2 linked regions of the Homo sapiens genome follow. The protein of the gene in region 1 interacts with the protein of each later gene in a pairwise test. Each region holds a gene or a part of one and is shown on either strand. Other genes may lie near its edges.

Region 1 (3,500 bases):
CATGCCCGGCTACTTTTTGTATTTTTTTTTTTTTTGAGATGGAGTTTTGCTCTTGTTGCCCAGGCTGGAGTGCAGTGGTGCGATCTCAGCTCACCGCAACCTCCTTGAATTCAAGTGATTCTTCTGCCTCAGCCTCTTAAGTAGCTGGGATCACAGTTGCCCACCACCACGCCCAGCTTTTTTGTATTTTTAGTACAGACAGGGTTTCACCATGTTGGCCAGGCTGGTCTCGAACTCCTGGCCTCAAGTGATCTGCCTGCCTCAGCCTCCCAAAGTGTTGGGATGACAGGCGTGAGCCACACCGCACCGGGCCACAGCTAGGAACTCCTGATGTTCTAGGAGGATGTCTCACATTGGAAGGAACCCCGTCCTCCCCCGGGGGCAGCCACAACACAGAGGCAGGGACACAGCACCGAAGCTTCTCACATCTTTATTGGAAAGGCACAGCTAAGCCCACCCTTGATACAGCATTTTCCACTTCTCTCTGTAGAGATCAGACGATTGAACACGAGATAAGCTGACTATATACAGACACAGGTGTGGGTGTTGCTTTTTTTTAAAAACACTTTTGTCTTTTTTTTTTTTTAATATCCCCTTTCTTAAAAGACAAGCTAGTATACTGGAAAAAGAAAAAAATAATAATAAAATAAAAACCAAGACAACTTTAGTACCCTCATCTTTATTTGGGAAGGGGAGGGGGAATCCTGGGTCGCCCACCCTCACCCTGCTCCTCCCAGCTCAGCTAAGCTCGTCCCTCGTGCCCCCCCTTTTGTGGGCGATGGGAGAGGACCAGGTGGGCGTGGAGGTGTCTGGAACTAGCAGAGGTGGTGAGTGGGGCAGGTGGAGGTGGGAGCATACCTGGGACCCGGGGTCGGGGGAGACTCGGGGTGCCCAGGACGGGAAAGGGGCAGCTAGCATTGCGTGCATGCAGTACCAGGGTGAGAGGGCTGTGGCCCAGGCAGACTGTCGGTTACACATGTTCAAAACGGGGGAAGGGCCGGGGCTGCTGCGCTTCGCGAGGTCTTGCTCCCTTGGGACCTGGTCTCCCATCTGACCCTCCAGGCCTTAGCTTGCCTCACATGTCAGGGCAGGTATCCACCTAACCAGGCTGCAGGGGAGGAGGAGGGAAGCCGGGAATGGGGTAGGAAGAAAGCTAGAGGTGGCCTGCAAGCTGGGCTGGGGCCCCCGCCGGCGGCCACCATAAATACTATGGGAGTTTAGCCAATCCCGAGCTCCGCTGTGTCTTGTGCTAAACATTCCTTTCTCTCCGTGCCTCTGTCTCCCCTCTGTCCCCCCTCCCAACCTCCCTGTCCCGGCCCCCTGCTAATCCGACTTCTCGCCATCATCCTCCTGGTGGGTGTCACCATCGTGCCCGTTCTTGTCTTCCTTGGAGAGGTGGGCCTGGGAACCCAGCGCGGACAGCGAGAGGAGGCCGGTGCCTGCGCTGACCGCCGGCAGCGAAGGCGGCTGCAGCCCCACGGGTAGTGGGGTCAAGGGCAGGGCCAGGGCCTGCAGCTGGGACAGCTGGTGGGCTTGGAGCTGCTGCTGCAGGGCGGGGGAGGGGAACATTAGCTGCCTGGGGCCCACCTGTCCCCCGCCCACCCGCCCAGGTCCCCATACATACTCGGATGATAGAGTTCAGCTCGGGAGCGGTGACCTGCTTGGCCCTCTCAATGGCTCCCAAGACCTGCTGCTGGTGCTGGAAGGGGGTCGGGGGAGAGGAGAGGCAGTGATTCCTCCTGATCCTGGGAGAGGAGAGGGGGACGGCCCTGAGGCCAGGAGGAGCCCCACTACCAAGTGGGCCATCATGTCTGCTCCTCCCAGTGGTTTTCAACCCCATCAGAAAGCACCCTCCCTCTCTCCAACTGCTTCCTTTCACCAAGCTCGTCTCTTCGTCTGGCCAACAGAGACAAATGGAAAAGTGCAGAAAACAATTAAAAGGGTTTTGTGCTAAGTAGTTAGGAAACAGCTTTTGAGTGAGCCCGGGAGAAACCCTGGATCCTGACCTATCCTATGTGCACAGCCACCTGCAAAGATGTGAAACATGTGAATGTTTGTGCAGTACACAACCTGCCCAACTGTACAGGGACGTCCTGATCCTAGGAGCTCCAAGACTGTGCCCTGAGTCTGGCCAAATTGAGCCCTTCTCCTACCATGGCTGGGGAGGGCCCAATGAATTCTGGCAGGGCTGGCTGGGGAATGGGCTCAGATTCAGGGCAGTTCCTCCCTGAGCTCTCCCCAAACACCTGACTCTGTGGCCAGCAGATGCTAGAATCTACCAATCTCCCTTTTTGCCTTGGCTACCAGGAAGCCTCTGTTCTGAAGGGCTCCAAGTGCCCTTTTCTCTAGGGCTTTCATTGGGTCCTGCTAAGACTTGTCCCTGGGCAAAGCAGGGCACCCAAAGGATCCTGAGATACCCACAGGGATTGAAGAGGAAGTTACAAACTTTTGACAGTAAACTTGGCAGGGACAGGAGATGGGCCTTACATGGCCCTGGGGAGGGGCGGCCTCGCATCCTGAGCCTCAGAACCCAAGAAAGGAGAAGAGGAGCTGGGCGTCAGGTTCATCTGGGTGTGTGTGTGCATGTGGTAATGTGTGCTCAGGATCACGTGTGCCCACGTGTAGCTGCACATTCCTGCATGCGTGTCCCTGTGCTGTCTGCACACACGTGTATCCGTGTCTGCATCTGTGTATCTCCCGTGTGTTGATGTGCTCGTGCCTATCTGTGTGGCTGTGTCCATGTGTGACCACCCTGTGCTACCCCTTCCCCCACAATCCCCTAACACCCTCTAGTCCTTGGTCCTGTGCAGCCCGCATGGCCTGGAGGAGGATGTCTCAAGAGGGTGAAAGGAGGAAGAGAGATGAGAAAAAAACATTCCTGGTGCAGTTTAGGCCCATCTGACATTTCTACCTATGACATGACTCACTCCAGCTGGGAATTCCAGAGCAGGGTGAGGCCCGCCCCCCACACGCCTGCACCCCTGGAGTGTCTCTGGCCCGGGGATTCTTCTGCACAGGCCGGCTCTGGTGTTCAGAGCCAGGGAGGTCCAGAGAGGGGAGGCGTGTGCCCTGGGGCGCCCAGCACACCACCCAAGATGGCTGCAGTGGACAGGGGCTGGGCAAGTGCGGGGCCCCCTCACAACCCCTCCCCAAGGCCCTGGCTCTTACCTCTTGGGAGAGGTAGGGCAGGACCTGGGCACAAATCCCGTTCAGCCTTTTGACGATCTCAGCCTGGAACACACAGATGAAGCCGGCTTCAGTCCTGGGCGGGTGGCAGGTGCAGGCTAGCCACAGGAGGCCTGCGCGGGGCCCGGCCCAGCCCTGCCACTTGCGGCTTCTAAGAGGGGCTAGGTCTGGCCAGGGTGGGATGAGCAAAGCCGTGTTCGGGCCCGAGGGCAGCCAGTCAGTGGCAAAGGTGGGGCTGGACACCGGCTGTCGCCTGCAGCTTAGAGTGAGGTAAGTGCAGGATGAGGCCAGACTGCACATTCCTCGGGGGTCGG
Region 2 (3,500 bases), on another chromosome or scaffold:
GGAGGGGAGGCCATGGGTTGGGTTAGGAGGAGAGGGGCCAGCGCTGAGGAGACAGGCGGGGAGGGTGCTGTGGGGTGGGGGTGGAGGTGGTTGGGTGCCTGGGTCCTCACTCCCGCCCCTGGCTCCCTCCTCAGAGAAACTTCTCCCTGTCAGTGAACAGCGTGGCTGTGCTGAGGCTGATGGGGAAAGGGGCTGGCCCCCCCCTGGCTGGCACCTCCCGAGGCAGGGGCAGCACGCGGAGCCGAGGTAGAGGGGTGATGGCGTGTCCTGGGGACGGGCAGATCTGGGCCCCTGACTTCGAGAACGTGCAGCAGGTTTCATTGTGCGTCTGGCCTCTTCTCTAGGCCGCGGCCGTGGTGACAGCTGCTTTTACCAAAGAAGCATCGAAGAAGGCGATGGGGCCTTTGGACGAAGCCCCCGGGAAATCCAGCGCAGCCAGAGCTGGGATGACAGGTGGGGCGGGGAGGGGGCATGGCGCAGAGCCGGGCAGGCCAGGGAGGGGAGGCCTGGGCCCTGTCGCTAGAGGGTAACAGAGGCCCACCAGATAAGCCCTGTCCGAGATCCCGGTGCTCCTGACCCCTGGTTTCGTTTGTCCCCTTCCTCCCTCCACTGCCTCAGGGCACAGTGGACAAGGCATGGGGCGGTTGCACAGGGTGGCAGGGGAGGCTGTACTGTTTCTGACCCACACGTTTCCCCTGCTGCAGAGGCGAGAGGCGGTTTGAGAAGTCAGCAAGGCGGGATGGAGGTACGAGGCTGCTGAGGGCGGCGGCCGGGGCGGCAGGGAGGACCAAGATGGGTGGCCCAGTCTGGGGGTGCTTATTTCGGAGGTGTTGGGGGCAGGAGGGCCTGGAGCTGGCCCCCCCAACGTTTCTTGAGGGTCCAGGCACCACGCTGCCTTTCTAATAACTGCCCCTGTCTTCCCGTCTCCCAGCACGATGTGGCTTTGAGGAGGGAGGGGCTGGCCCAAGGAAGGAGCACGCCCGCTCAGACAGCGAGAACTGGCGCTCCCTACGGGAGGAACAGGAGGAGGAGGAGGAGGGCAGCTGGAGGCTCGGAGCAGGGCCCCGGCGAGACGGCGACCGCTGGCGCTCCGCCAGCCCTGGTGAGATTGGGGCCTGGTAGCATTGGCGGGGGCAGTGGGGAGCAGGAACTGTAATGAGAGGGTGGGCTCCTGTAGCCACGGGGAGGGAGCAGAGGCTGGCTGGTGTGGGAGTGGCCGGGACAGCAGCCCTGGAGGTGCTCCGTGAGCTGCAGCAGAGGGGGCCGCTGGCTTCGCTTGGGTACCCACTCTTCTTCTCCCTGACTTTTCCTGTGCAGATGGTGGTCCCCGCTCTGCTGGCTGGCGGGAACATGGGGAACGGCGGCGCAAGTTTGAATTTGATTTGCGAGGGGATCGAGGAGGGTGTGGTGAAGAGGAGGGGCGGGGAGGGGGAGGCAGCTCTCACCTGCGGCGGTGCCGAGCGCCTGAAGGCTTTGAGGAGGACAAGGATGGGCTCCCAGAGTGGTGCCTGGACGATGAGGATGAAGAAATGGGCACCTTTGATGCCTCTGGGGCCTTCTTGCCTCTCAAGGTATCTGTGAGGAGGCGAGGGTGGGAACCTGCCCTTCCGGGGTCCTCTTCCTCCCCACCCACCCCAGCTGTTCTCTGCTCCCCACCCCGGCCCCATGCAGAAGGGCCCCAAGGAGCCCATTCCTGAGGAGCAGGAGCTGGACTTCCAAGGGTTGGAGGAGGAGGAGGAACCTTCCGAAGGGCTAGAGGAGGAAGGGCCTGAGGCAGGTGAGCCGCGGGGTGCCCAGCGGGCCTGGGGCTGGGCCGGGCAGGCACTGGTGTTCTTTGCCGGGCTGGGCATTGGCTGCCCACCTACCTGTAGAATCAGGCTACTTAGATCTGGAAGAAGAGTGCTGAGAGGTGGGGAGGAACCAGGGGGTAGCAGAGCCATGTCTTCAAGGCAGTGTACCAGATAGAAATCAGGCGTAATCAAAATGACCTTTGAAAGTCCCTTGAAGAAGCTGTAGAACCTGGAGTGACGTCTGCGGTGTTGTGTGGTGTTGTGCGATGTTGTGATATGTTCCTGCCGCGTCTGGCAGCGTGGAGGCGAGGGTCAGGGCACCGCATTCCCTCTGCCATTAGTTGAGTTGACCCAAGTGAAGTGGTGGACTCGGCCTAAGGGAGTGTGACCCGCGGTTCCAGCCACACTCAAGGGCTTGTGCTAACTCGCGTGGCAGGCCCAGCCCTTGGTTCTGAACTCTGGCCATCTCCCTCTTCTAGGTGGGAAAGAGCTGACCCCACTGCCTCCTCAGGAGGAGAAGTCCAGCTCCCCATCCCCACTGCCCACCCTGGGCCCACTCTGGGGGACAAACGGGGATGGGGACGAAACTGCAGAGAAAGAGCCCCCAGCGGCCGAAGGTAGGAAGGGAGGATGGCCTACCTCCCGGGTGCGCTGGGGCTGTGGGAGAAAGTGCTCCCCACTCGTGGGGGTGGGCACACAGGGCATTCACATTGAGGAGCCATGGCAAGAGCGTGGTGTTCTGGAGTGAGAGTAGGCGAAAGCTATCTTGTCTCCTCCCCGCCCTTCTTTCCACCTCCTATCTCATGCCTTCCAGATGATATTCGGGGGATCCAGCTGAGTCCCGGGGTGGGCTCCTCTGCTGGCCCACCCGGAGATCTGGAGGATGATGAAGGCTTGAAGCACCTGCAGCAGGTGTGGGGGCCTGAGAAAGCGGGAGGGACCCTTCCCACTTCTGACCTGACCTGCTTGGCCCCAGCCCCGGCCCCAGCTCAAGCTCCATCCCCATCCCCATCCTGATGTTGCTGAGATTGGCAGCTGAGCCTTTCTTCTTTTTCTGGGCATCCAGGAGGCGGAGAAGCTGGTGGCCTCCCTGCAGGACAGCTCCTTGGAGGAGGAGCAGTTCACGGCTGCCATGCAGACCCAGGGCCTGCGCCACTCTGCAGCCGCCACTGCCCTCCCGCTCAGCCATGGGGCTGCCCGGAAGTGGTTCTACAAGGACCCACAGGGCGAGATCCAAGGTACCTGTGTGGGATGGGAGGGCTGCTCAAGGCCGTTCTGGTTCAGGGTGTCTCTGGCATACCCTGTGACCCCAGTGGTTCTCCCGCTCCCTCGCTCCCTGTCCAGGCCCCTTCACGACACAGGAGATGGCAGAGTGGTTCCAGGCCGGCTACTTTTCCATGTCACTGCTGGTGAAGCGGGGCTGCGATGAGGGCTTCCAGCCGCTGGGCGAGGTGATCAAGATGTGGGGCCGCGTGCCCTTTGCCCCAGGGCCCTCACCTCCCCCACTGCTGGTGAGCCGCTTCTCCCCTGCATGGAGGGACAGGGTGTGAGGGGTGCCGGCAGGAGTCCAGCAGAGTCCCCTCCTCCCTGCTGGGGGCACTGGCCGAGCTCTCACCTGAGCAGGGAAACATGGACCAGGAGCGGCTGAAGAAGCAACAGGAGCTGGCCGCGGCGGCCTTGTACCAGCAGCTGCAGCACCAGCAGTTTCTC

Evidence for each region. The genes of interacting proteins can lie anywhere in the genome.
Region 2: the proteins of TLE5 (region 1) and GIGYF1 interact in binary tests that used the Homo sapiens proteins (3 or more experiments, as listed by UniProt).

Annotation. Positions count from the first base shown.
Region 1 is NC_000019.10:3,052,496-3,055,995, forward strand, and holds the end of TLE5 (TLE family member 5), read right to left. Parts: intron 3,232-3,500; coding exon 3,169-3,231; intron 1,700-3,168; coding exon 1,625-1,699; intron 1,546-1,624; coding exon 1,324-1,545; 3' UTR 415-1,323; downstream 1-414. UniProt on the Homo sapiens protein: Transcriptional corepressor. Acts as a dominant repressor towards other family members. Inhibits NF-kappa-B-regulated gene expression. May be required for the initiation and maintenance of the differentiated state.
Region 2 is NC_000007.14:100,684,251-100,687,750, reverse strand, and holds part of GIGYF1 (GRB10-interacting GYF protein 1), read left to right. Parts: intron 1-134; coding exon 135-246; intron 247-344; coding exon 345-453; intron 454-704; coding exon 705-745; intron 746-931; coding exon 932-1,102; intron 1,103-1,317; coding exon 1,318-1,571; intron 1,572-1,671; coding exon 1,672-1,777; intron 1,778-2,269; coding exon 2,270-2,407; intron 2,408-2,604; coding exon 2,605-2,702; intron 2,703-2,856; coding exon 2,857-3,028; intron 3,029-3,134; coding exon 3,135-3,301; intron 3,302-3,410; exon of another isoform or gene 3,411-3,413; coding exon 3,414-3,500. UniProt on the Homo sapiens protein: May act cooperatively with GRB10 to regulate tyrosine kinase receptor signaling. May increase IGF1 receptor phosphorylation under IGF1 stimulation as well as phosphorylation of IRS1 and SHC1.